Homo sapiens: one gene and its partners. Changing the gene in region 3 together with the main gene of any one other region gives a genetic interaction. Each region holds a gene or a part of one and is shown on either strand. Other genes may lie near its edges. The genes, in order: MCM3AP, MZT1, TBCB, CDK12, YTHDC1 and CCNK.

Region 1 (3,500 bases), on a different chromosome or scaffold from region 3:
TTCATTCATTCTCACTACCCCATTCTTCGCATTTTTGTTTTACATAATTTTTTCCTCTCTTATTCTGAGATCTTTGACAAAACTATCTGGGAACAGGGAACTGCTAACAACCTTGCAGGGCACCTGGAACTCCCTCTCCTGGTTCACTCACCTGTCTCATGAGGAGGATTCCTTCCTCATTTTCTCACTGGTGAGGAGAAACTATTTTCAGAAATGAACATGTGGGGCCTACGTCAGATGTGCTGGTCCCAGGGCACACCCCCATCGCTCTTCCCCCAGCTCAGCTCAGCCGACTGCAAAGCCAGACCAAGGTCCTCTACTATCATCCCAACATCTGCTACCAGACAGAATGCTGCACTATTGGCTACTGCCACTCCTGAAAGCTCTTCTCCTGTTTAAAGCCTGCCTTTTCAGCCACCTTAGGACAACTTTTGGATGTGAAAATTCACCTTAGGATGTCTCCCTTGTTGAGACTGAGCAGAACATTGTAGCCCTGGAACTCCGCTTCGCTGGCACAGAAGACACCCTTGTTTCTCAGGTCCTGGTACATCTCCTTCAGGCTCTGCAGGCACTTGGTCATGTTCTCATTATTGATCTTGGCATCAAAGGAGGACATGGGCTCCTCACACATGAAGTGGGCACAGTGGATGTGAAACCGGGTGCACTTCTCAATCAGGGACACCGTCAGGGGGTCACAGAGGTGCTGCTGCGTGATATCCTGGCCACAGGCGAGGGGGAGGATCACACACACATTCCCATGCAAAGAGGCAACCGTGAGAAGGATCATGCTACGACCTCAATTTCTCACTTTTCAATTTGAAACAAAGCCCATGATGCACATTTTAATAGGACTTTGTAGTGACTTAAATAAAAGTCCTGGGGTTTGTTTTTTTTTTTGAGACAGAAGCCAGGCTGGAGTGCAGTGGTGTCATCTTGGCTCACCACAACCTCCGCCTCCCAGGTTCAAGCAATTCTGCTTCAGCCGCTCGAGTAGCTGGGACTACAGGCGTGTGCCACCACGCCAAGCTAATTTTTGTATTTTCAGTAGAGATGGGGTTTAACCATGTTGGCCAGGCTGGTCTCAAACTCCTGACCTCAGGTGATCCACCCACCTCGGCCTCCCAGAGTGCTGGGATTACAGGCCTGAGCCACTGCACCTGGCCCACAAAAGTACATTTTTGTTACAGATAAAATATATAACAGAGTAATAAAAATATCAGTTTGACTTTGGAATTTGCGTGGATTTTTTAGCATCCAGGTTGGAGGCAGCCAATACCTTCCGTATGCCACGCGTGCGGTTCCACACGAAGTCATACCAATCCCGCAGGCTGCCCTCCTTCTGGTCCATGATCTGGGTCACCAGGTAGTCCATGGTCCTGCTGAGCACTGGCAAGGGCCGCAGCTCGTGGGGCAGGGGCTCCTCCTGATCCGCCGAGGACCGACTGTACTCTTTCACAGCTGCTGCGTGGTCCACCTAGAGACATGAAGCCGAGACAGGATGCCCATGTGGCATACCTTGGGCCAGGCATAGTTATGCCTGAAAATGAGGGGGAAAATCACATACACACCCACACAAGATCAGTATTTGAGAATATATTTTTTCAACATAAAATTTCTGTTAAAAGGTGACAATCAAAATTCAAAGACAAATAGAGAAATTTGATTTTGGCAAATATGACAAGGAGTTAAGATATGAGTGCGTCATGACAAACAGGAGGAATGTTAAGTGAAGGCACATCTGCTAGCCTCCAAAGCAGAGAGACGGGACAGGGAAGGGCCTCAAGCACTTAAAAGGTCTCAGGCCCGCTCACACACCAGATTAAGTCTACACAGAGCAGAAGTGAAACAGAGACAGGCGGTGAGGACTGCTGAGGACACAGCATCAGGGGCTGGCTGCCCACCTGGGGCCTGGAATTGCATCTCCCACCTCAAAAGGAGGCTGAAGACGTGGCCAAGGGAAGAGGCAGAGATGTACACAGGACAAGGCCCTGGGCATGTGCCTCTCCTGGGGCAGGGGCCCTACAGTGACACGAGTTGCTGGGCTGGGGACCCCGCACCAGGCGAAGGGTGTATAAAGCCACCAGCCAGGAAGAGGAGAAGCCCATAAGCAAAATTCACAAAGTCCAAAAGGATCTATATTGGTGCAGCTTTCTGGGGCAACAATTTGGGAAGATACATGGATAATGTTCAGGAAAGGTCATACCCTCTGATGCAGTAATTTAATTCTTAGGATCTGAAGAAAATAATCTAAATACCAGAGAAGCATTACATACAAGATGCCAAACAATATTACTAATAGAACTAAAAATTTAGAAGCAGCCTATCTACTAATGGTAAAAATGCAGAGTTTTGACAGAGCTACTAATAAAATAATATGCTGTCATTTTTAAATGCTCATAGTTTACCCTAACAAAGGAAAATGTTCATGACATAATTTTAAGTGGAAAAGATACACATAAAATTGTATCTAGAGCATAATCTCGAATGTGTAAAACATAAGCATAGAAACAGACAGGAATAAGATCGTAAAAAGAAAAAAGTTAGCTGGATGTGGTGGCTCACGCCTGTAATCCCAGCACTTTGGGAGGCGGAGGTGGGCAGATGACTTGAGCTTAGGAGTTCGGGACCAGCCTGGGCAACACGGCAAGACCCCATCGCTGCAAAAAATAAAACAGTAACTAGGCGTGGTGGAGCATGCCTGTAATCCCAGCTACTCTGTAAGCTGAGTGAGAGGAGAGGATCACCTGAGCCTGGGAAGTTGAGGCTGTAGTGAGCCATGATTGGACCACTGCACTTCAGCCTAGGTGACAGAGTGAGACCCTGTCTCAAAAAAAAAAAAAAAAAAAAAGAATTTGAAAAACAACTTTATTTAAAATAACTTGCATCTATACCTTATCATGTATAGGTACCAATTACAGAGTGAACATCTCACAATGCAAAACAGCTTAATATGATTGTTAATAGCACAAATACCCAACACTGTCTAAAACAAACACCCAAATCAAGTATGTACAGAAATGACAAAAGCAGCCCCGTCCCCTGCCCACACTCCACGGGGAGATGCAGGGCTCTACCTGGTCAGTCCCTGGGACCACTTCGAACACGCTCAGCTGGCTACGGGTCTCCCGCATGTACCTCTCCTTCTCAGGACACATATCCAGGCAGGTGCCAACAAAAGTCCTCGCTTTGTCCAGATCGGTTCTCTTCACCCGAGCTAAATGACGTCAAGTAAAAGGTAAGAATGTACCACATGGTTAGCACGAACCTACAGAAGTGTATTCTCATAATGATAAAAAGAAATTAAAACTTAAAACACACACACACATTACAAAAGAAAAGAAAAACATTTGTAAAACTCAGAGCCTCAGACAAAGAGGACTTATGGTCTATTATGCCAGGCAGTGGGACATCAAAGCTCCCAAAGACCCGAGTCCACCTCTCTCTAACAGTCACAGACCCTCACTGCAGACTAAGAGAAAGACCCCCGAGTCACCTCTCCA
Region 2 (3,500 bases), on a different chromosome or scaffold from region 3:
AGAATTTTACTTAGGTACCGGATAGTTTTGTATTTCTAATTCTTGAGCTTTATAATGAGATACCGTTATCTGGAAATGGTTTGATCCTTTCGGATATTACTTCTTAGATCTGTTAGGCAGGACCAGAGCCCTGTTTAGGATAGGGCTAATTATTCCCCTTATGATTGAGGTAAGAATTCTGAGTACTGTATCCAATGTCTTATGAATTACAAAGATTTCCATTCTGGCTGGTAGTTACAGGCACTATCCTCAGCCCTGTGTAAGCACGGTGCACGGTTCACTCTAATCCTTCTAGATGGTTCCCTCCCAGCTTTCTGAGTACTTTCCTCACACATCTGCTAATCAATGCTCTGAATACTTAAGGGGGACACTTCTACAGATCTCCAGCATTCTTTCTGTGCAGTTCTCCCCTCTCAGGTACTGTTATTCAAACTCTACCTGCCTTGGTCTCCCAGGTCTTCTAAACTCCTCCTACTCACTTCAGTGTGTCCACTGGGTTCTCCCTGCTATACTGAGGCCTGGAACTCTCTGAAGGCAGTGAGCTGGGGCAACCCAAGAAATCACTTTGCTTGTTTCCTGTCTCTAAGGGATCACTGTACTCTGATGCCTGATGTCCAGTGTCTTGAAAACCATTGTTCTGTATGCTTTACCTGAGTTTTCTTGGTTGTTTCAAGTAGAAGCATAAATCTAATCTCTGTTACTCCATCTTGGCTGGAAGATGACAGCTCTTCCCATTTTCATTTCTTCAGTTTTGATATTCCAATTTACTGATACTTTGCTCTTCAGCTGTATCCAGCCTGTTATTCATATTATCTGCTGAATTTATTTCAAATTTATTTCAGTAGCTTTCAAGATTTCTAATTTCTAATTTCTCACCATAAACACTTGTTTTATAACTAAATGCTTATTTATAGTGACAAATTTCACAGCTGTTGTTCCTGCCTTCGTCTATTTAAGGCTATATTCTTAAACTGTATTTGAGATTGCTCTATTATCTCTATTTCTTGGAGTATAAGCAAGCAGCAAAAGACAGTGGTTAGGAGTGTGATCTCTAGAGCCAGACTACCTGTGTTCAAATTCTAGCTGTAGTATTTAGTAGGCAAGTTACTCTCTCTGTGCCTTATTTCACCATTCTCGAAAGTGAGGATAATAAGAGTACCTGTTTTAAAGGATTAGTGTGAGAATTAAAGGATACACTTAGAATGGTATCCATTTGTTTTGCTGACACTGCCTTGCAGTCCTTTGGAATGGTGCTTGGCATACGGTAGGGCTCAATAAAAAAGAGTTCCCTGTTACTACCACTTTCCCTCTTTTTCCTTTTCCATGTTAGTTGCTCATGTTTTTCATCTACCTTAGGTGCTTTGTCATTCTTGGCTGAAAACTCATCTTCCATAGATTTATTTTAGGTGTCCTGGACTGGTGGCCCATTCTAAGATAGGAAGCCGTACCCTAGCTTTAGGCCTCTAGATCAGGCCTTGTAGTATTTTTGGTCCAGATCCAAAAAACACATGGATGGTGCTTCTCAATCTCTGGCTGTGACAAATGGCACATTTCTGACTCCCAACTTCAGTGAGGCAGGGTAGCATGCTTTGTCAGATTCTATTCCCGACAATCCCCTGCTGTGGTTCCCATCTGCTCCTTTCTTTTGGGGGGAAACCTCTCTCTTCCTAATCAATGGAGACTTCCCTTCTTGCTTTTGAACAGGTCTATCCTGATAATTATATTTTCTTACTATTTCCTATTTTTTTATATGCTTAGAGTTTCAGCAAGTGCTCAATCTACCATATTGAATCTTCACTTTATTTTTGACTGTCTTCACAAATGGATTCTACTTAGCCCTTGTACATTCTAAGTGGTTACCATCAGTATACTGGAACACTACATATTAAACTTTTTAATCACCAGTCACCTTGATGAATTCTATGATGCTTCTAACAGTTTTTCAGTTGATTCTCTCCCTTCTCTCTCCAGTTTCCAGTTTGTTCTCTTCATGGTAGACCCCCCCACGTATAAAGGCTATGCTTATTCCTGACTTCATGCCTTTGTTCTTGCTTTTCTCCTCTGCCTTTTATCCTCCCTTCATATAACTCAATGCTGTTTTCTTAGTCCATCTCATTTGTGGTTTCTTCTTTAAGCCTTCTTTTCAAATGGACACCTATTTTTACTTCCTATTTTCACAAATCGCCTGTAATCAAAAACTATTTCTTTAGTGCCTACCATATGATCAGTACAGGTTGAACACTCCTAATTCCAAAATCTGAAATGTGAAATGCCGCAAAATCCAAAACTTATTAAGTACTGACATAACACCGTAGTGGAAAATTCCACACCTCATATAATGGATCAAAGTCAAAATGCAGGTGCACAATACACAGTTCATTCAGCATCCCTGAGGGAAAAAACCAAAATTACCTTCAGGCTATGTGTATAAGGTATATATAAAACATACAAGAATTCTGTGTTTGGACTTGGGTCCCATCCCCAAGATATCTCATTATGTATGTGAAAATATTACAAAAAAAAAAATCTGAAATCCAAAACATGGTCCCAAGGTTTTTGGATGAGAGATAATCAACCTCTAACTATATGTATTTTGTGCCTATTATGCTACTGCTGCAAATACAGTTATGAACAAGGTATATATGGTCCCACTCCTCACAGATATTAGTCCAGGAGGAGAGATAGATATTAAAGTAATAACTGATTCCAGATATAAGTAAAATAAATAAAGAGTGGAATACTTCTGAAACAAATTACAAGGGCATCTTACCAAGTTTGGAAGGACACAGTGTTTAGCAAAGACTTGTCTGAAGAAGTGACAATTACACTTAGACATCAAAAGTGAGTAGAAATCAACCAGACTAATACAGAGGCAGGAGGAAGGGTGATGGTTGAGAGCAAAGAAAACAGCTTGTGTGATGGTCCCTACACTAGAGGGAACTTGGTAAATTCAGACCTGAACTGCTATTGTGAAGGCAATGTAATTAACGGGGTGAATGGGTATAAAATATGAGGTAAGTCCTAGTGAAGATCTTAGAACTGTGGAAAGCTACTGGATGATATAAAATAGGAACATAAAAAAATCAAACTTGCATTTTAAGGACTTTTTGGCTGAGTATCAAATGAATCTTTAAAAAGTCCAGTTATATCACAATTTTGATAAAAGACTGGTGGGTAGGATGAACAGGAGATATTTAGCCAACCTGAAATGAGTCAAGAATTGAAAGGGCTTAGTGAAGAACAGGAGGCAGAGGAGGTGAGAAAGCAAGACTGACTTCTAGATTTCTTTCTCAAATGTGCAACTGGATTGATGGTGGTAGCATGGACTGTTTCGCTGGTACTGCCTTGCAGTGCTAGTCAAATGGAATCTATATACCATAGATTCTCTTAACTCCTTTCTCTATAACGTGTTTTTTTTTTTTTTTTTGAGATGGAGTCTAGCTCTGTCACCCAGTCTGCAGTGCAGTGGCGCAATCTCAGCTCACGACAACCTTCGCCTC
Region 3 (3,500 bases):
CTTGAAATCTGTGAGACCTGCCAACAGAAGAGAAATCCCTGTGAAGCTTCTGGACATAGAAGAAATCCCCATGAAATTTCAGGATCACCCTGGATCCATGCCTACCCATTGAGTAGAAGCCTGTCTTGGTGAAAACCATTTCTTGCTACCTCTATTGCTACCACTAGGACCACCTCCAGCTCCTGCCGGGACTAATATGGTAGCCACTTCACTGGTGTCCCTGCTTCCACCCCTGTCCCCCATTCACTGGGTGAAGACACCAGCCAGTGAGGGCTTTGTAAAAACCTAAGGGGGATGGCACTACTGCCTTGCCAGAGAGAGAGGCTTCAGAATAAATCCAACCTGCTGACAGCTTGATCTTGAACTTCTAGCCTCCATTACTGTGAGAAATAACTTTAAGTTGCTCAGTGAGTGGTACTTTGTTAGCAAACTAATACACAACTCAGCGACAAAAGACAGCATCCCAATGAAAAACTGAGCAGAAGAATATACAAGGAACTCAAAGAACACCCACTTTGCAAAAAAAAAATCCCATTACAAAGTGGGCAACAGGAAGTTGAGGCTGCAGTGAGCCACGATCATGGCCAAAGGACATGAACACACACTTCTCAAAAGATGACATACTGGCCGGGTGCGGTGGCTCACGCCTGTAATCCCAGCACTTTAGTAGGCTGAGGAGGGTGGATCACGAGGTCAGGAGATCGAGACCATCCTGGCTAACACGGTGAAGCCCCGTCTCTACTAAAAATACAAAAAATTAGCCGGGTGTGGTGGCGGGCGCCTGTAGTTCCAGCTACTCGGGAGGCTGAGGCAGGAGAACCGTTTGAACCCGGGAGGCGGAGGTTGGAACGAGCGAGCTGAGATCATGCCACTGTATTCCAGCCTGGGCACAAAGCGAGATTACGTCTCAAAAGAAAAAAAACAAAACCAAACCCCGACATACCGATGGGCGCAGTGGCTCATGTTTGTAATCCTAGCACTTTGGGAGATCCACCAGCTCAGGTGGATCACTTGAGGCCAGGAGTTTGAGACCAGCCTGGCCAACATGGCAAAACCCTGTCTCTACTAAAAATACAGAAATTAGCCAGGTGTTGTAGCGCTCACCTATAATCCCAGCTACTCGGGAGGCTGAGGCATGAGAATTGCTTGAACCCGGGAGGCAGAGGATGCAGTGAGCTGAGAGCACCACTGCACTCCAGCCTGGGTGACGGAGTGAGACTGTGTGTCAAAAAACAAAAGGCAAAGGATCTGAATAGACATTTCTCCAAAGAAGATACACAAATGGCCATGCAAAGATGCTCAACATCATTAGCTGCCAAAGAAGTGCAAATCAAAACCATGATGATGTTCCACTTCACACCCAGTGGATGACTGTAAGCAAAAGACAGACTAAAGTGCTGGTGAGGATGAGGACAAAATGGGACCCTTCTGCACTGCTGGCGGGAATGAAAACTGCTGCAGCGGCTGTGGGAAGCAGTGTGGCAGGTCCTCAAAAAAGTCAAGCACAGTGTTACCATGTGGCCCAGGGATTCCACTCCTAGGCACAGAGAAATGAAAACAAATGTCCACATAAAAATGTATTTTTTATTTTTTGAGATGGAGTCTTGCATGGTTGCCCAGGCTGGAGTGCAGTGGTGTGATCTTGGCTCACTGCAACCTCCGCCTCCCAGGCTCAAGCGATTCTCCTGCCTCAGCCTTCCGGGTAGCTGCGATCACAGGCACCCGCCACCACGCCCAGTTAATTTTTGAATTTTTAGTAGAGATGGGGTTTCACCATGTTGGCCAGGCTGGTCTCAAAATTCCTGATCTCAGGTGATCTGCCCACCTTGGCCTCCCAAAGTGCTGGAATTACAGGCATGAGCCACCATGCCCAGCCACACAGAAATTTATAAAAGAATGTTCAGGCCTAGCATGGTGGCTCACACCTGTAATCCCAGCACTTTGGGAGGCTGAAGCAGGACGATCACTTGAGCGGGAAGAGTTTGAGACCAGCCTGGGCCACATGGCGAAATCCCATCCTACAAAAAAAACCACAAAACTTTAGCCGGGGGTGGTGATGAGTACCTGTATTCCCAGCTACTCAGGAGGCCGAGGTGGGAGGATGGCTTGAGCCCAAGAGGTTAAGGCTGAAATGGCCGAGATTGTGCCACTGCATTCCAGCCTGGGCAATAGCCAGATGCTGTCTCAAATTAGAAAAAAAAAAAAAAAAAAAAGAAGAAGGTTCATAGCAGCATTATTCATAATAGCCAAAAAGTGGAAATGACCCTAATGTCCACTAACTGGTGACTGGATACACTGTGGTCTAGGCGCTCAATGCAGGACTATTTGGCAACAGTGTGGCACTGACACAGGCATGCCACGGATGAAACTTGAAAGCATTCTGCTCAGTGGAAGGCGCCAGTTACAAAAGGCCACAGACTGCATGATCCTATTCCTATGAAACATCCAGAATCGGCAAATTAGAGACAGACGTAAATTAGTGGCTGAAGACGACTGGGGGATGGGTACACACAGGCATAAAGACGGAAATACCAGACAGTGGGGATGCCAGAAACAGGAGGGTGGTGAGGGTTGAAAAATTATCTGTTGGGTACGATGTTCACAATTTGGGTCATGGGTACACTAGAAGCCCGGTCCCCACCCACTAGCAGGCAACACACCCATGTAACAATACATATATGTACCCCGTGTATCTTTTTTTTTTTTTTTTTTTGGAGACAGGGTCTCCCTCTGTCACCCAGGCTGCAGTGCAGTGGTGCGATCATAGCTCACTGCAGCCTCAACTCCCGGGCTCAAGCCATCCTCCCACCTCAGCCTCCCAAGTAGCTGGGGCACCTATAGGTGCTCACCACCACAACTGACAAAAGTTTTGTGGGATTTTTTTTTTTTTTTTTTTGTAGAGACAGGGTCTCATTATGTTGCCCAGGCTGGTCTCAAATTCCTGGGTTCAAGTGATCCTCCTGTCTCAGCCTCCCAAAGTGCTGGGATTACAGGTGTGAGCCACTGCACCCAGCCTTTTTTTTGAGACTGGGTCTTTCTCTGCTGCCCAGGCTAGGGTGCAATGACACAATCATAGCTCACTGTAACCTCCAACTCCGGGGCTCAAGCAAGCCTCCCACCTTGTTCTCCCAAAGTGCTGAGTTTACAGGCGTGAGCCATCATGCCTAGCCTGTTCTTTTTAAAAAAATCCACACTGCTCTCCACTGTGACGCCGCCCTGCCCATGCCCCTGACTACACTTCTCCCCTCTCCTCCCGCTCCCCTTCCCCAGGTGGACCTCCTGCGCTCTGCTCACCTGCACCCGCTACTCCTTCTGGCGGGAACTCTTCCTCCCTTTTCACCTGGCTGCTGCCTCCTTTCCTTCAGATGCTCCCAGCCTCCAGGTGCTTCCTCTGGGCTCACACAGCCCCCTGTGTTCCCTCACTCCTGCCTTGGTCACGCCGCCCGTTTCCCCACCGCGACTGACACTGCCCCACGCTTCGAAGCGCACAGGCCGCGTGC
Region 4 (3,500 bases), on a different chromosome or scaffold from region 3:
CAATGTATCAACATTCTAGTGTAATAAATGAATTTGGCTGGGCGCGGCAGCTCATGCCTGTAATCCCAGCACTTTGGGAGGTAGAGGCAGGCGGATCATGAGGTCAGGAGTTCGAGACTAGCCTGGCAACATGGTGAAACCTGGTCTCTGCTAAAAATACAAAAATTAGCCAAGTGTGGTGGTGTGTGCCTGTAATCCCAGCTACTAAGGAGGCTGAAGCAGGAGGATTGCTTGAACCTGGGAGGTGGAGGCTGCAGTGAGCCGAGATCACACCACTGCACTCCAGCCTGAGCAACAGAACAAGAGTCTGTCTCAAAAAAATAAATGAATTTGGACATTTCTTTGGAGCAATCAGATTTAGAATTACTACCTACTCATGAACTAACATCCTATCCATTTTTAAGACATGTAGTCTTTCTTAAGAAAATGACCTCCAAAATTTGACATTAAAGCTATAATACTGTCACTGACAAATTCAAAGATAAAATACTTTTTTTTTCTTTTTCTTTTGAGACAGAGTCTTGCTCTGTTGCCCAGGCTAGAGTGCAGTGGTGCAATCTCAGTTCACTGCAACCTCCGCCTCCCAGGTTCAAGTGATTCTCCTGCCTTAGTCTCCCTGAGTAGCTGGGACTACAGGTACACGCCACTACGCCTGGCTAATTTTTGTATTTTTTAGTAGAGACGGGGTTTCACTATGTTGGCCAAACTGGTCTCGAACTCATGACCTCAGGTGATCTGCCTGCCTCAGCCTCCCAAAGTGCTGGGATTACAGGCATGAGCCACCGTGCCAGGCCAGATAAAAGACTTTTTATGTGCTATAATGTGGGATATGAATCTCTGAAGCTCCAATACAATACAGAGGCATTCATAAGATTTTAATTAAATAGAGACATATTAAAAGATCATATTTCTTTTATGTTACTTTAATTTTTTGAGATGGAGTATCACTCTATGGTCTAGGCAGGAATGCACTGGCACAATCTCGGCTCACTGCAACCTCCACCTCCCGAGTTCAGGCGATTCTCCTCCCTCAGCCTCCTGAGTAGCCAGGACTACAAGCATACACCACCACACCTGGTTAATTTTTTGTATTTTTAGGAGAGACGGGGTTTTACCATGTTGGCCAGGCTCTCTTGAACTCCTGACCTCAGGTGATCCATCCACCTCGGCCTCCCAAAGTGCTGGGATTACAGGTGTGAGCGACCGCGCTCGACCGAAAGATCTTATTTCTTACATCAAAATTCAGTAATCTGGCTGGGTGCGGTAGCTCACGCCTATAATCACAGCACTTTGGGAGGACGAGGCAGGCGAATCACCTGAGGTCAGGAATTGGAGACAAGTCTGGTCAACATGGTGAAACCTCATCTCTACTAAAAATACAAAAATTAGCCAGCTGTGGTGCCGGGCTCCTGTAATCCAGCTACTCAGGAGGCTGAGGCACGGGAATCGCTTGAAGCCGGGAGGTGGAGGTTGCAGTGAGTTGAGATTGTGCCACTGCACTCCAGCCTGGGTGACAGAGTGAGAGACCCTGTCTCAGAAAAAAACAAAAACAACAAAAAAAACTGGCAGTGATGCAAACCATTTAAAACTGGGACTGTTGGCCGGGTTCAGTGGCTCACGCCTGTAATCCCAGCACTTTCGGAGGCCGAGGCAGGCAGATTACCTGAGGTCGGGACTTCAAGACCAGTCTCACCAATATGGTGAAACTCTGTTTCTACTAAAAATACAAAATTAGCCAGGCATGGGGGCGCATACCTGTAATCCCAGCTACTCGGGAGGCTGAGGCAGGAAACGCTTGTGGTGAGTCGAGATCACACCACTGCACTCCAGCCTGGGCAACAAGAGTGAAACTCTGTCTCAAAAAAAATAATAACAAAAAAAACCCCAAAAAACTGGGACTATCTCTGCAAGTGTGAGATATACATGGTCACCAGAGACATGCATGATTACAGCTGGAGGAATGGTTAAGAGCAAAAACCAGAGGGAGGCCAAGCATGTGTCTCCTGCCTGTAATCCCATGACTTTGGAAGGCTGAGGCGGGAGAATCACTTGAGCCCAGGAGTTTGAGACAGTCTGGACAACATTGTGAGACTCCATTTCTACAATTGGAAAAAAAAAAAAAAAGGCTGGGAGTGGTGGCTCATGCCTGTAATCCCAACACTTTGGGAGGCTGAGGCAGGCAGATCACCTGAAGTCAGGAGTTTGAGACCACCTTGGCCAACATGGTGAAACCCTGTCTCTACTAAAAATACAAAAAAATTAGTCGGGCGTGGTGGCCTGCGCCTATAATCCCAGCTACTCAGTAGGCTGGGACAGGAGAACTGCTTGAATCCAGGAGATGGAGGTTGCAGTGAGCCGAGATCACGCCACTGCACTCCAGCCTGGGCGACAGAGCGAGACTCCGTCTCGGAAAAAACAAAAAAGGCTGGGAGCAGTAGCTCACATCTGTAATCCCGGCACCTTGGGAGGCCAAGGCGGGCGGATCACCTGAGGCCAGGAGTTCAAGATCAGCCCGGCCAACGTGATGAAACCCTGTCTCTACTAAAAATACAAAAATTAGCCGGGCATGGTGGCGTAATTCCAGCTACTTGGGAGGCTGAGGCAGGAGAATTGCTTGAAACTGGGAGGCGGAGATTGCAGTGAGCCAATATCACACCACTGCACTCCAGCCTGGATGCGAAGAGTGAAACTCCGTCTCAAAACACACAAACAAACAAACAGGCCAGGCACGGTGGCTCACACCTGTGATCCCAGCACTTTGAGAGGCCAAGATGGGCAGGAGTTCAAGACCAGCCTGGCCAACATGGTGAAACCCCATCTCTACTAAAAATACAAAAAAATGGCCAGGCACTGTGGCTCATGCCTGTAATCCCAGCACTTTGGGAGGCCGAGGTGGGCAGATCACCTGAGGTCGGGAGTTCGAGACCAACCTGACCAACATGGAGAAACTCTGTCTCTACTAAAAACACAAAATTAGCTGGGCATGGTGGCACGTGCCTGTAATTTCAGCTTGGGAAGGCTGAGGCAGGTGAATCGCTTGAACCTGGGAAGCAGAGGTTGCGGCGAGCTGAGATTGCGCCATTGTACTCCAGCCTGGGGAACAAGAGCGAAACTCCATCTCAAAAAACAAAACAAAATGAAACAAAAATACAAAAAAATTAGCCGGGTGTGGTGGCAGGCACCTGTAATCCTAGCTACTTGCAAGGCTAAGGCAGGAGAATCGCTAGAACCCGGGAGGTGGAGGAGGCAGAGCAAGATTCCATCTCAAAACAACAACAACAACAACAACAACAAAAACACGCTGGACGCAGTGGCTTACGCCTGTAATCCCAGCACTTTCGGAGGCCAGGGTGGGTCACCTGAGGTCAGGAGTTCGAGACCAGCTGGGCCAGCAAGGTGTAACCCCGTCTCTACTAAAAATACAAAAATTAGCTGGGTGTGGTGGTGTGTGTCTGTAGTCCCAGCTACTCGGGAGGCTGAGGCAGGAGAATCGCTTGAAC
Region 5 (3,500 bases), on a different chromosome or scaffold from region 3:
AAGCCACAAATGTAATTGTTCTGTCTCATCAGTTTTCATGGCTTTATACTTCCTCTTTGGCACACCTTAAATTTGGAAAGATGTTTTTGATATTGGAATAGTTAATGTTTAAACATTTACTATTAGCATTAGTACATTTTAAAATTTAAAATGGTATTTGTGTGTATTTCTAAGGTTTATCTTGTTGGACAAGGTAGAAGTGGGGACAAAACTGAGTTTTATGCTTTCATGATCATTGAATAAAGTCATAGTTCCCTTCTCTGAACAAGTTTTGTGCTTTTACAGTCCACACCAGCAGGCTCTAAATGTTTTTTTTATTATATAGCACATTGATAATTTTTTCATTTAACTTGCAGTTTGACATAATTTCAGATAAGCATAATAGCTACAAGTGCAGTGTGAAGAATTTTCTTTTACTCTCCAAACACATTCTGCAGATGTTAGCATTTTGTCACATTTGTCTCATTCTGTGTGTCTGTGTGTGTACGTGCATGTGTGCACACTTTTTTCCTGAACCATTTGTAAGTTGTAGACATAATATATCTTTGTCCCTAAATACTTAAATATGTGTTATAAGGACTTTGACTTAACCATAGTACAGTCAAAATTAGAAAAATAACATTGCTACTTACTCTGATTTACAAACTTTATTCAGATTTCACCAGTTTTTCCAATTATGTCCAATATTGTGGGCTGTGTTCAGTTATCATGCCTCTCTAGGTCTGCTTTGATATGAAATAGTTCTTACTCTTTGTTTCATGACAGTGACATATTTGGATGCCCTTTAATTTGGGTTTGTCTGATTTTTTTCCTCATGTAGGTTCAGCTTTTCCATTTTGCATAGAACATTACAAAAGCATTGTTCTATTCTCAGAGCATTGTTACAGGAGGTCCATGATGTTGATTTGTCTCATTACTGGTGATGTTAACTTTGATTATCTGGTTAATTTGGCCTGTGAAACATTTCTCCACTGTAAAGTCGTTTTCCCTTTGTAATTGTGGAGAGTGCACATTTTTGGTAAATGTGTATTTATAAGTTGTACATACGTATTTGTATACTAATTTATTGTACACATTTTAAAGCCCTCAGAAATATTAGAAATTAAAGAATGAGGTAAAAATAGAGACATTCTTGCATTTTCTTTTTATGCCTCAGTATATCTTTTCATGCCTTCTGAGATGTATACTCCTGGCTTTGTAGACCAGATAGCCCAGACTTCTGTTTGTGTGTGTGTGTGTATTTTGAGAAACTCACTCTTATCGCCCAGGCTGGAATGCAGTGGCACAATCTTGGCTTACTGCAACCTCTGCTTCCCAGGTTCAAGTGATTCTTGTCCCTGAGCCTTCTGAGTAGCTGGGGTTAAAGGCATGTGCCACCATGCCCTGCTAATTTTTGTATTTTTAGCAGAGCAGGGTTTTGCCATGTTGGCCAGGCTGGTCTCAAACTCCTGGCGTCACGTGATTGGCCTGCCTCAGCCTCCCAAAGTGCTGGGATTGCAGGCATGAGCCACCACGACTGGCCAATTCTTTACCCTGTATTAGTTTTATAGAAATTAATCTTGTGTCTTGATTCTGAAATAAAAGTAAAGCTTTTTATATAAAAGTAAAAGCTCCTAGGCGCTTGTGGCCTCACACTTAGTAAGTACTCAAAAATACATGTTCAATGATAGTGATTTTTCCCTATTAATTTTTAATTTTATTTGCAGATGGAGAACTTAATGTTCTGGATGATATTTTAACTGAAGTACCAGAACAAGATGATGAACTGTATAATCCAGAGAGTGAACAAGATAAAAATGAGAAAAAGGGTATGTAAGAGTTCTATTATTTTTGTTGAAATAACAGTATAAATAGAGGAGATTCAATTTCTTAAAAAAAATGACTGTGCTTTTTTGTGCTTGTTCCTTGAGGCAGTTAACACTAAATGTACATAATAAACTGGTATCCATATGAATAGGGATAATCTGTTTTTTTCTAATATATGAAACTTCTCAAATATATGGTTTTATTCCCATAGTTGAAAGCTATGTTTTCTTTTAGATTAACTCTGGAGAAGAAATCTCTCAGAAGACTTTTAAAGAAATGAGGCCTATCCCCCCTTCCTGATGTATATATTATTGTCAGTCTTTGGTGAAATAAATGGAATACTACAAATACTTCTTTTTTTTTTTTTTACATTGTATTTTAAAGGATCAAAAAGAAAAAGTGATCGAATGGAATCTACTGATACCAAACGACAAAAGCCTTCTGTCCATTCTAGACAACTGGTTTCTAAGCCACTGAGCTCATCTGTTAGCAATAACAAAAGAATAGTTAGTACAAAAGGAAAGTCAGCCACAGAGTATAAAAATGAGGAATATCAAAGATCTGAAAGAAACAAGCGTCTAGATGCTGATCGGAAAATTCGTCTATCAAGTAGTGCCTCCAGAGAACCTTATAAGAATCAACCTGAAAAAACCTGTGTCCGGAAAAGGGATCCTGAAAGGAGGGCCAAATCTCCTACGCCAGATGGTTCTGAGGTAGTAAATATTATTGCAGATATAAAACAGAAAGCCATTCTTTTTGAGGCTTTAGAACTGTTTATTCACCCTGACCTTGTCTTTTATATGACTGCTGATTCCCTTTTTCTTTAAACATCAGAGAATTGGGCTTGAAGTGGATAGACGTGCAAGCAGATCCAGCCAGTCTTCTAAGGAAGAAGTGAACTCTGAAGAATATGGCTCTGACCATGAGACTGGCAGCAGTGGTTCTTCTGATGAGCAAGGGAACAACACTGAGAATGAGGAGGAAGGAGTGGAAGAAGATGTGGAGGAAGATGAAGAAGTAGAAGAAGATGCAGAAGAAGATGAAGAGGTGGATGAAGATGGAGAGGAGGAGGAGGAAGAGGAGGAGGAGGAAGAGGAGGAGGAGGAGGAGGAAGAAGAAGAATATGAACAGGATGAGAGAGACCAGAAAGAGGAGGGAAATGATTATGACACTCGAAGTGAGGCCAGTGACTCTGGTTCTGAATCTGTTTCCTTCACAGATGGGTCTGTCAGATCTGGTTCAGGCACAGATGGATCAGGTACTACTTTTTATATGTAAAAGTTTGTCTTAAAAAAAGCTTGATAGGTTTCAGTCTTGAAAATGTTTAAATTATAAAATTGTTGAGGAGATGGGGGATATTAATAGGATTGTCTTGTGATCCTTTATATGCTTTTGAATGTTATAAATACATTTGAATAATCTTGGATAAGATTTACATATTTTAGGAAAGGCATTTCCTAGCTACAGAATGGTTGTGTTGTAAATGAACACAAGTCCATTTGATTCTGTATAAGGAAATGTATTTCAGATTTCTGTAAATTCTTAGATTTTCATACCAGTCAGCAGTTTATTTAAACACTGATGTACTTGAAGTATATTCATAGGAAACCTGTCCACTGGGTATTACAGTATTTCCTTGGTAAAATACCCCTAGATTTCCATCATATGGCTTCAGAATCAAAACAGATTATTTC
Region 6 (3,500 bases), on a different chromosome or scaffold from region 3:
GATTGATGAAGATAAGGAGTCCTCCTGGTCTCCTATTCAGTCTCATCTGACTTTTTCCCCAACTTTTTATTGTATGAAAGAATAGTGCAATGACAACTTATTTACCTGTGGACACATGTTCGTTTTTTGCCATGTTTACTGTGTGGTTGTGTTTTAGCTGAACCATTTGAAAGTAGGTTGCAGACATCATGACACTTTACCCAAAATACTTCAGCCTTCATCTGCTAAGAATAAAGTCATTCTCCTGTGTAATCACAATATCATTATTACCCCCAAAGAAAATTAACTGACAGTAATTCCCTCCCTAATACCCTCTAATATACAATTTATACTTAAATTTTTCCAAATTGTTTGAAATTTCTTTTTTTTAAAAAAAAAAAAAAAGCAGGATCTAATCAAGGTTCACACATTGCATTTTGTTGTAGCCCTCTTTAGCCTTTTTAAATCTAAGACAGTCTCTCAAAATGTTTTTTCATAACACTGTTTTGAAGAGACCGGGTCAGTTGTTGAGTAGAGTGTCTCACCTTCTGGATGTGACTGATAGTTTCCATGTTGTGCTTTTTTCACTTACTCTTGTACCACCAGTATTTATTGTAAACTGGAAGTTCGGTCAAAAGTTTGCTTAAATTTAGGTTAAGCTTTTGGGGGACAAGAATACTACATAGGTAGGTGATATTTATTTCACATTGCATCACATCAGAAGCCATGTAATGTCAGGTTTTCACCCTATTAGTGATGTCAAGTGTGATCATTTTGTTAAGGATCAACTGTATTTTTTTTACAGTAGTTAATATCCATGCTAGCAAAGTCGCATTTATTATCAGTAGCATTTTATTATCAGTAGTTATCAGTGCTAGCAAAGTATTATTCTCTATATGTATTAATATTATGGACACTTGGATTGTATGTTCACTATTTTATGATCAACCACAGTTATTTTTCTTTTTGCTATTCAAATTACCTTGGATTAGTCCAGTGGGCACCCATCATGGTGGCTCCTATGTCTTTTTTTTTTTTTTCCCTAGCAAATCATTCCTTCAGCAGTCCTATGTCTTTTGATAAGCTTTGATTAGTCTGAGTACATCCCAGGCAGGCTCCAACCCCAGACTGGAAAGAAACCTGCTTCCTTTTAGAGGGTATTGGTATTGAAAAAGTTAAGATTTCAGAATTAGGAGTGTCATTCCTTCTTGGTACTTGAAAAGGACAGAAATGGGATACATATATATATATTTTTTTTTAACCATGATTTATTTTGATATCTTCAGTTAAAGTTTAACATTACAGATTTGTTTCTTAACATTTGGTTTTCTGCATGTGTGCATTTGTTTTCTTTGCACTGAAAATCTTGGTTCCTAACAACATTAGCATTTACATATTTGCTTTATTCCACAACATGCAAAAAAAAATGTGTTTGAAAATTACAACATTAATGACACTACTAACAGTACACTAATGAAGTTTTAAAATTTCGTTGGGGCCAGCCACTGTGGCTCATACCCATAATCCTAGCACTTTGGGAGGCTAGGCGGGAGGATCGCTTGAGGCCAGGAGTTCGATGCTGCAGTGAACTAGGATCATGCCACTGCACTTATAGCCTGGGTGACAGAACAAGACTCTGACTCTAAAATAAGTAAGTAAGTAAATAAATAAACAAATAAATAATTCTTTTCAGTTATTTTTGTCCTTAGAATATATCTCACTAAGCATGTAACAATATCAGAAATTACTTGGAAGTAAGTTTCTGTGTGATTTTGTTGCCCATTTGGTTTGAGTTTTAGGATTTGCTTTTTTATTTTTAGTTAAGTGTATGAGTATGTTAAATATTTACATGATTCAAACATCAAAGTTATAAAAGTACTCTGCAGGGAGTCAAGCTGAAAGAGCACCTAATGGCCACATTGGAATAATTTGAGCAACAAAATAAATAATGATAGTATTGGATTATAACCCAAAGAATAAAATACTCATGTCTGTACTAAAGTAAATAAACAAATGGGAGAGAAGAAACAAATATTAACAAAATGATTCCAAATAATAAATGTTGAAGCAGTGAAGGAAATAGAAAGTCACCATTAGAACACCACAGTTGTAATCGTCTCAGGTGAATGCTAAAATTAGTAGATGAAACTTGAAGGAGAAATAGACATTTGTATAGTATTTTGCATTGTAAAATATTTCCCCCAAAATATTTACTTACTAGTGGGTGGTTTTAACATATGTCCACAATTTCTTTGATATCTCTGCCTCCAGAAAGTAGAGCTTAATTCCTTTACCCTTGAGTGTGGGCTGGACCTCGTGACTTGCATCTAAGGAATAGAAGATAGGAAGGGAAAAATAATAATTTACAGTGAGAAACCTGGTAGACTCCATCTTAACCAAGAGCTCATGGTTAACAGCAGTAAGTTGTTCTGATATCACCTGCACCCAAATATGATGTGTAGTTAATAGTGGTTATACCAAAGTTAATTTCTTTTTTTGGATAAATGAACCATGGTTATGGAAGATGTTTACATTGGGGAAGCTAAGTGAAGGGTATAGACAAAACTCATCTATCTTTACAGCTCTTCTGTAAACGTACAATTAGTTTAAAATAAAAGCTTTCATAAAAAGGCAAAGCTGTATAAAAAGATATATACATAGAGAAGTCTTGTTTCCATTCCTGTCTTTTCCATCCTGTTTTTCCCCATTCCTTATTGGTAAATATTTTTTGAATTACTTTAAAAAAATAGAGATGTCTGGCTGGGCGCGGTGGCTCACACCTGTAATTCCAGCACTTTGGGAGGCCGAGGCAGGCGGATCACGAGGTCAGGAGCTCCAGACCATCCCGGCTAACACGGCGAAACCCCATCTCTACTAAAAATACAAAAAAATTAGCCAGGCGTGGTGGCGGGCGCCTGTAGTCCCAGCTACTCGGGAGGCTGAGGCAGGAGAATGGCGTAAACCCAGGAGGTGGAGCTTGCAGTGAGCCGAGATCATGCCACTGGCACTCCAGCCTGGGCAACAGAGCAAGACTCCGTCTCAAAAAAAAAAAAAAAAAGAGATGTCTGTTTTTTCCCCTCCTTTCTTACATAGATGCTAACATACTGTGTACACTATCCTATACCTTGCTGATCTGGAAATTTCTCCATCCAGTACTTAACGATGTTTCTCATTCTTTTTAATAGCTGTGGGGTATGCTATTGTGTGCATGTGTCATATTTTACTCAGCCAGTCCCCTGATGATGGGCGTTTGGGTTGTTCATAGTTTTGCCATTATAAATAACACTACAGTGAATAATCTTGTGCACATGTTGTTTCATAGTTGTGACATTTCATAGTTAGGACAATATTTTCAGAGTCGATTCCCAGCAGTGGGAATCCTGGGTCAAAGAGCAAATGCATGTGTAATTTTGTTGGATATCGTCAACTTCTCTGTGACAGTTGGACCATTTTGTACTCCCACCAGAAGCTTATAAGATCACCTGCTTCTCTATAGCTTTGCCAACAGAGCAAATTGTCAA

What was found.
Region 1: changes in TBCB (region 3) and MCM3AP together harm fitness less than expected from each alone (positive genetic interaction), as found in Homo sapiens cells (one large-scale study listed by BioGRID).
Region 2: changes in TBCB (region 3) and MZT1 together harm fitness less than expected from each alone (positive genetic interaction), as found in Homo sapiens cells (one large-scale study listed by BioGRID).
Region 4: changes in TBCB (region 3) and CDK12 together harm fitness less than expected from each alone (positive genetic interaction), as found in Homo sapiens cells (one large-scale study listed by BioGRID).
Region 5: changes in TBCB (region 3) and YTHDC1 together harm fitness less than expected from each alone (positive genetic interaction), as found in Homo sapiens cells (one large-scale study listed by BioGRID).
Region 6: changes in TBCB (region 3) and CCNK together harm fitness less than expected from each alone (positive genetic interaction), as found in Homo sapiens cells (one large-scale study listed by BioGRID).

The regions. Positions count from the first base shown.
Region 1 is NC_000021.9:46,272,112-46,275,611, forward strand, and holds part of MCM3AP (germinal-center associated nuclear protein), read right to left. Parts: intron 3,215-3,500; coding exon 3,075-3,214; intron 1,475-3,074; coding exon 1,277-1,474; intron 719-1,276; coding exon 450-718; intron 1-449.
Region 2 is NC_000013.11:72,721,130-72,724,629, forward strand, and holds part of MZT1 (mitotic-spindle organizing protein 1), read right to left. Parts: intron 1-3,500. UniProt on the Homo sapiens protein: Required for the recruitment and the assembly of the gamma-tubulin ring complex (gTuRC) at the centrosome.
Region 3 is NC_000019.10:36,121,968-36,125,467, reverse strand, and holds part of TBCB (tubulin-folding cofactor B), read right to left. Parts: exon of another isoform or gene 3,295-3,500; intron 18-3,294; coding exon 1-17.
Region 4 is NC_000017.11:39,520,486-39,523,985, reverse strand, and holds part of CDK12 (cyclin-dependent kinase 12), read right to left. Parts: intron 1-3,500. UniProt on the Homo sapiens protein: Cyclin-dependent kinase that phosphorylates the C-terminal domain (CTD) of the large subunit of RNA polymerase II (POLR2A), thereby acting as a key regulator of transcription elongation.
Region 5 is NC_000004.12:68,336,591-68,340,090, reverse strand, and holds part of YTHDC1 (YTH domain-containing protein 1), read left to right. Parts: intron 1-1,706; coding exon 1,707-1,808; intron 1,809-2,190; coding exon 2,191-2,519; intron 2,520-2,640; coding exon 2,641-3,064; intron 3,065-3,500. UniProt on the Homo sapiens protein: Regulator of alternative splicing that specifically recognizes and binds N6-methyladenosine (m6A)-containing RNAs.
Region 6 is NC_000014.9:99,487,909-99,491,408, forward strand, and holds part of CCNK (cyclin-K), read left to right. Parts: intron 1-3,500. UniProt on the Homo sapiens protein: Regulatory subunit of cyclin-dependent kinases that mediates activation of target kinases.